Linked DNA regions of Homo sapiens: region 1 is linked to region 2. The links come from fine-mapping of genetic effects on gene expression. Tissue or cell type: whole blood. Region 2 holds a variant in brackets; the other region holds the start of a gene. All regions are shown on one strand. Distances are from middle to middle.

The links. PIP is the estimated chance that this variant, and not a neighbour inherited with it, causes the effect.
Region 1: it holds the start of SPARC, and the variant in region 2 is fine-mapped to the expression of SPARC in whole blood (TOPMed, PIP above 0.99).

What each region holds. Positions count from the first base shown.
Region 1 is chr5:151,685,266-151,687,953 of GRCh38, forward strand. SPARC (secreted protein acidic and cysteine rich) reads right to left here and starts at 1,650. Exons shown (of 10, transcript NM_003118.4): 1 at 1,600-1,650. It overlaps CLMAT3 (colorectal liver metastasis associated transcript 3), which reads left to right. Exons shown (of 5, transcript NR_109873.1): 4 at 564-686; 5 at 1,117-2,645. RefSeq lists enhancers at 761-1,590, 1,591-2,418.
Region 2 is chr5:151,654,068-151,656,755 of GRCh38, forward strand. LOC105378231 (a long non-coding RNA gene) reads left to right here. Exons shown (of 2, transcript XR_944417.3): 2 at 1-1,382. It overlaps LOC124901116 (a long non-coding RNA gene), which reads right to left and starts at 438. Exons shown (of 2, transcript XR_007059007.1): 1 at 399-438. The variant A/G (reference allele first, on the strand shown) is at 1,200.

The sequences.
Region 1 (2,688 bases), 31 kb after region 2:
TTCAGAAGGCTTCATCCTCCAGCAAATACACACATTTGTTACCAGTCCTCACTCCATCCCCACGTCATGCCCTCTAATCCATTTGAGAATATCTTAAAGCTGAAAGCTGTGACCACCCATATTCATCCTCTCTCTCTCTCTCTCTCCCTCTCTCTCTCACACACACACACACACACACACACACACACACACAGTGCATACAATTTTTAGGGGCTTAGAGATGGCTTGAGGCCCATTCAAAGACCACTCCATAGACCCTGGTTAAGAAATCTTCCTTTGAATATTTTAGAGGACACAAAGCACCCCAAAGAGCCTTCAGTTTCAGCCTTCTTTCATTACAGATGGGGCACTAAATCCAGGGGAGACACTTACCTAAGATCACACATAAAATGCATGCCCGAAGCCTGTGTCCTACTTCTGCTTTGCTTCTCACTAAACCACCAGCACTTGGGGCGTATAGAAATTTAACTCTAAAGCATTACTAGAGAAAACATTTTCTCTAATGAAAAAAATGCTGTCCTTTCCTGAGGAAAATGCATGCCTCTCTGTTCCCTTTTGGGCAGACTGGGAATCCTGGAAGACATAACTCATCCCAGTGCCCCCCTTCCCTTGGAGTCCTTGGAGTCCCTTTCCCTAAGGAAGTCCACTTGACAGCCAGTTCACGGAGCCAGTGGCGGCGAAGAAAGGTAGTGGATTTGTCTGAAGAAGAACTGACACCCTGACAGGCTGGACACTAGTCTTGGGTGGATTACGGAAGGGGACCCTGGAATTCTCTCCCTCTTCCCTTCCCCCTTTCCCCCTTCTGAGAATATCTCCCCCAGCACACTCCACCTCCCATTACACCCATGTCTTGGTTGACGATATCTGATGTCTGGGTTTTCAGATCTAGATAAACTAAGGGCTACTGCCTGTGTTTACCATCCCAAGGAACTCAGGACAGGAACAACACCTAACCCAAGACTGAGGTTGTGATGGTGCCATTTCAGGCAGAATGGTGCTGAAATTTGTGTATTGGGGGGACGGAAGGTGGTGTTTGGGAGTGAGGAGAATTAGAGGAAAACAGAAGGCTTCCCAGAGGTGTGGATTAATGGTGAAGCCTCCCCCTTTGCCTTTCAGAGATCAACTGATTGTTCGTGCAAAGTCCCTTTTGGAAAACAGAACCCCTGACCGAGATCTGGAGGACAGACTCCGGTTGCTGGCCAGGTCCCTGTGGCAGCTGTGATGGGATCAGATTCCCAGGAAAGGAGGAGGCTGCCACATTTGCAAAGGGAGCAAAGAGGACAGGCAGGCAGCCTCTGAAACCAGAGACAGACACAGAGAAAAACAGAGAGTGAGAAAATGCTCCCCCGAAGACATAGTGAGATTATTTTCTGTAAACCTGTAAGGGAAGACAAAGTTACACAGTGAGTCCACCTTCTGAAAAGCAACAGGCAGACAGGACCGAGGGCCATGCTCTTAAGGGGAGCCGTGATGGAGCCGGGAGGAGAGGCGCATCCTCAGCAGAGCTTCCCTCCCTTGCACACGAGCTGACGGCGTGAACGGGGGTGTCGGGGTTGGTGCAACTATAGAAGGGAAAGGCTGGGCGGGGGTCACACATACCTCAGTGGCAGGCAGGCAGGCGGCAGGCAGAGCGCGCTCTCCGGGCAGTCTGAAGGACCGCGGGAATGTGGAGGGGTTTAGAGACAGGCAACAGGAAACCACTCAGAGCTCTGGGCTGGGTCTATCTCCCCTCCACCCCGTGGTCCCTCCTCCTCCTGTCTCCTCCTTCCCCCGGCCTCCTCCTTCTCCCATAGCCAAAGCTGTCTCTGTCTTTCATTTCTTTCCTCCTCTTTTTGCGGTGGGCTGTCCTGACCAAACGTCCCAACCCTGCCTGCCTCATCTGTTCCGGGGCTGCTGCCTAAACCGACTCACAGAGTGCCAGGGCTGGACAGGCCTGGAGGGATGACCCAGAACAGCCTCTTTCTTGTTCAGAGGGCAAGTGAGGCCTGGAGACTGCAAGGAATTACCCAATGGCCCCCAGGGGCAGAACCAGGCCCAAGTGTCTTGATCTTCTAACCAGTGAGCTTTACAGGAGTCCTCCCTAATATTAGGCAATGCTGAGAAGGGCCAAGCAATTCAAGGGGGTTGTATTTGCCACAAAGGCAAGGCCAGGACTTACCACTGTACAGACAAGACAAGCTGCTACTAGTGGTATCATCCTTGATGATTTGGAACTGGTCTTAAAAAAAAAAATCCCACTCAAACTCCACTTGTACCACTAATAGACACATAAGGGATTAGACATCTAGCTGGTGGACCTGTGCCACCAGTATTGAACAGATAAGGTAATTGATGATATTGATGATAATCATAGGAGTAACAATAGCCAAAGTTTACTGAGGATTTAATAATCTTCACAGCAACCCCTTATCTTAGGCATTGTAATTATGACCATTTTAATAATAAGGAAACATAGATGCTAAGTAACTTGCCTATGATCACCTGGCAAAAAGTGGTATGAGAGGGCTGATTCTACGTTTCAACTTGGGTCACTCCTGTTATATATGAACTGCTCAGTGCAACAGGTCTTGGTTGAATGTTTATTTTGTGCCTAACACTCTGGGAGGTATGAGAATTAATAAATACCTGGTCCTTGTCCTCAAAAAGTTTTGTGGTTTCCGGTTTTTTTGTTTGTTTGTTTTGTTTTGT
Region 2 (2,688 bases):
AAAGACAATCTGCACACCTGGAGGAGATATTTGCAACATTTACAACTGGCAAAGGTTTATTACCAAGAATATATAAAGAAGTCTTATAAATCAACAAGAAAGAAGAAAAACAACAGAAAGAAATGGACAAAAGAAAAAGCATTTTATAAAAGAAGAAATGCTCATGGCCAGCAAACATATGGAGATGTTCAAACTCATGTGAAATGTAAATCAAGACCCAATAAGATAAGCTTTTATGTCCACTAAAATGGCAAAATGTTAATAGCTAGACAATCCAAGTATTGGAGAACATACAGATCCATGGGATCTCTTACATATCGCTTATAAGGGTACGCATTAGGACATAGGACACTCACTTAGAAAAAGTGTGGCATTATCTTGCAAAATCAAACACTCACATAGGCTGCTGTGCAGGTCCTGAGTCTGTTTGCCCTCAGATCCACTCTTTGCTATGCCCTTATGTCCTCAGTTTTCCAGCAGGATCTCGGCAGCCATGTCATCTTGCTTCCAGTTGGGCTCAGTTAATAAAAGAGAGAGAATGGAAGGTGGAAAGAAGGGAGAAGCCAAGGTGTTTCTCACCAGCACCCTCCCCTTCTCCTCTCAGGTAACATCCCCTGTGGTGGCCACAGCTCTCCGATGGGTCCAGTTCCCACAGGAAAGCCAGCCATGATTCTAACTTCTACCAGGTGACCCTGGCCCTGGGCTCTGGTGACACTAACCTTTTGTTTCTCTAGTCCTGGGGAGGGGTAGTAACAGCTTCCTGCTATTATTAATTTATGGATTGCCTCATTGCCTCCTGTGAGGCTTCTCAGCTATTGATTACCATACTACTCAGCAATAAAAAGGAAAAAACTATTGATACATGCAACAACTTTGTCGGACCACAAGAGAATTTTACCAACTAAAAAAGCCAGTCTCACATTGTTACATACTATATGATTCCACTTACATAACCTTCTAGAAATGACAAAATTATTGAGGTGAAGAACAGATTAGTGGTTGCCAAGGGTTAAAGACAGGGTTGGGGTTGGAGAAAGAAATCAGTGTACCTAAAAAGAAGCAGCCAGAGGGATCTTTGTGGTGACGGGACAGTTCTGTATCTTGATTGTGGTGGTGGTTATACAAATCTACGTGTAATAAAGTTTTATGTGTGCATAGAACTATGTACATACTCAAACAAATGCATGTAACCCTGGTGA[A/G]ATCTGAATAAGGTCTGTGGATTGTGCCAATACCAGTGACCTGGTTTTGATACTGTATTATAGCTATCTAAGACATTATTATCAGGAGAAAATGGGGGAAAGGTACATGTACTTTTCTGTACTATTTTTGCAACTTCTCGTGAATCTGTTACTATTTCAAAATTAAAAGTATCTGAAAATCCATAGAGTGGTTTCTGTTTTTTCTGATTAGACCCTGACTGATACTCCTACAACCCCACAATTCCTTCCGCTCCTAGATGTATATTTACCTAGCAGATAGGCCCCAGAGAAACTCATAAATGCATGTGTAGCAGTTATTCATGACAGAAGAAAACCCAACCACTCATAAATAGGAAAATAAATAAATTGTGGTACAAACACGAACAAAATCTTATACAGCAGTGCAGATGAATGTAATATGCTATACACAGCAATATGGATAAGCCTGAACTCATAATGCAATGTTGAGTGAAAAGGGCAGGGCTCAGGACATTATTTATAAGTGTTTTATCAATGTAAAAACACAGCATTTGTTATAAATTTTAAAATTACCTAAAATGATACAACATATTGCTTAGATATATACAGGTGCATGTGTGGGTGTGTTTTTGCTTATGTTGCTGTGATATTTATTATTATTTTTTCCTAATCACTAGAAAATGTGGGAATTATATTAATTGTTAAACATAAGGGAAGGATAGGTCAGGCGCAGTGGCTCATGCCTGTAATCCCAGCACTTTGGGAGGCCAAGGCAGGTGGATCACCTGAGGTCAGGAGTTCGAGACCAGCCTGACCAACATGGAGAAACCCCGTCTCTACTAAAAATACAAAATTAGCTAGGCATGGTGGCACGTGCCTGTAATCCCAGCTACTTGGGAGGCTGAGGCAAGAGAATCCAGGAGGCGGAGGTTACGGAGAGCCGAGATTGTGTCATTGCACTCCAGCCTGGGCAACAAGAGTGAAACTCCGTAAAAAAAAAAAAAAAAAAAAAAACCATAAGGGAAAGATAAACACAAAATTCAGGAAAGTGGTCACAGAGCGGACAGGATAGAGAATGAACATAGGTGTCGCCACTGTTCCAGTTCTCATGTGGGGAGGCAGGCTCATGGGTGTTCAATATATTATTTGAAAGATGATAGATGATAGATAGATAGATAGATAGACAGGTTGATGGATAATGGCTAGATGATAAATAGATAGATATATAGATAATAAATAGACAATTGATAGATGACAGATATAGATGATTGATAGGTAAATAGATGATTGATAGATAAATAGGTAGCAGATAGATTGATTGATCGACTGATAGATAAAAGCAAAAGAGAGTCATGCAAAGACCAACCAATGACAGTGAGTCATGAATCAAGGATCACAACGAATGGCTCTACGACTTGAGGTCTACTGCATTATCTATGTCTCCATTTATTATTAAAAGGAGGTATGGAGTCTAATAACTCTGGGACCTCCAATCTAATGAGAACAGAAA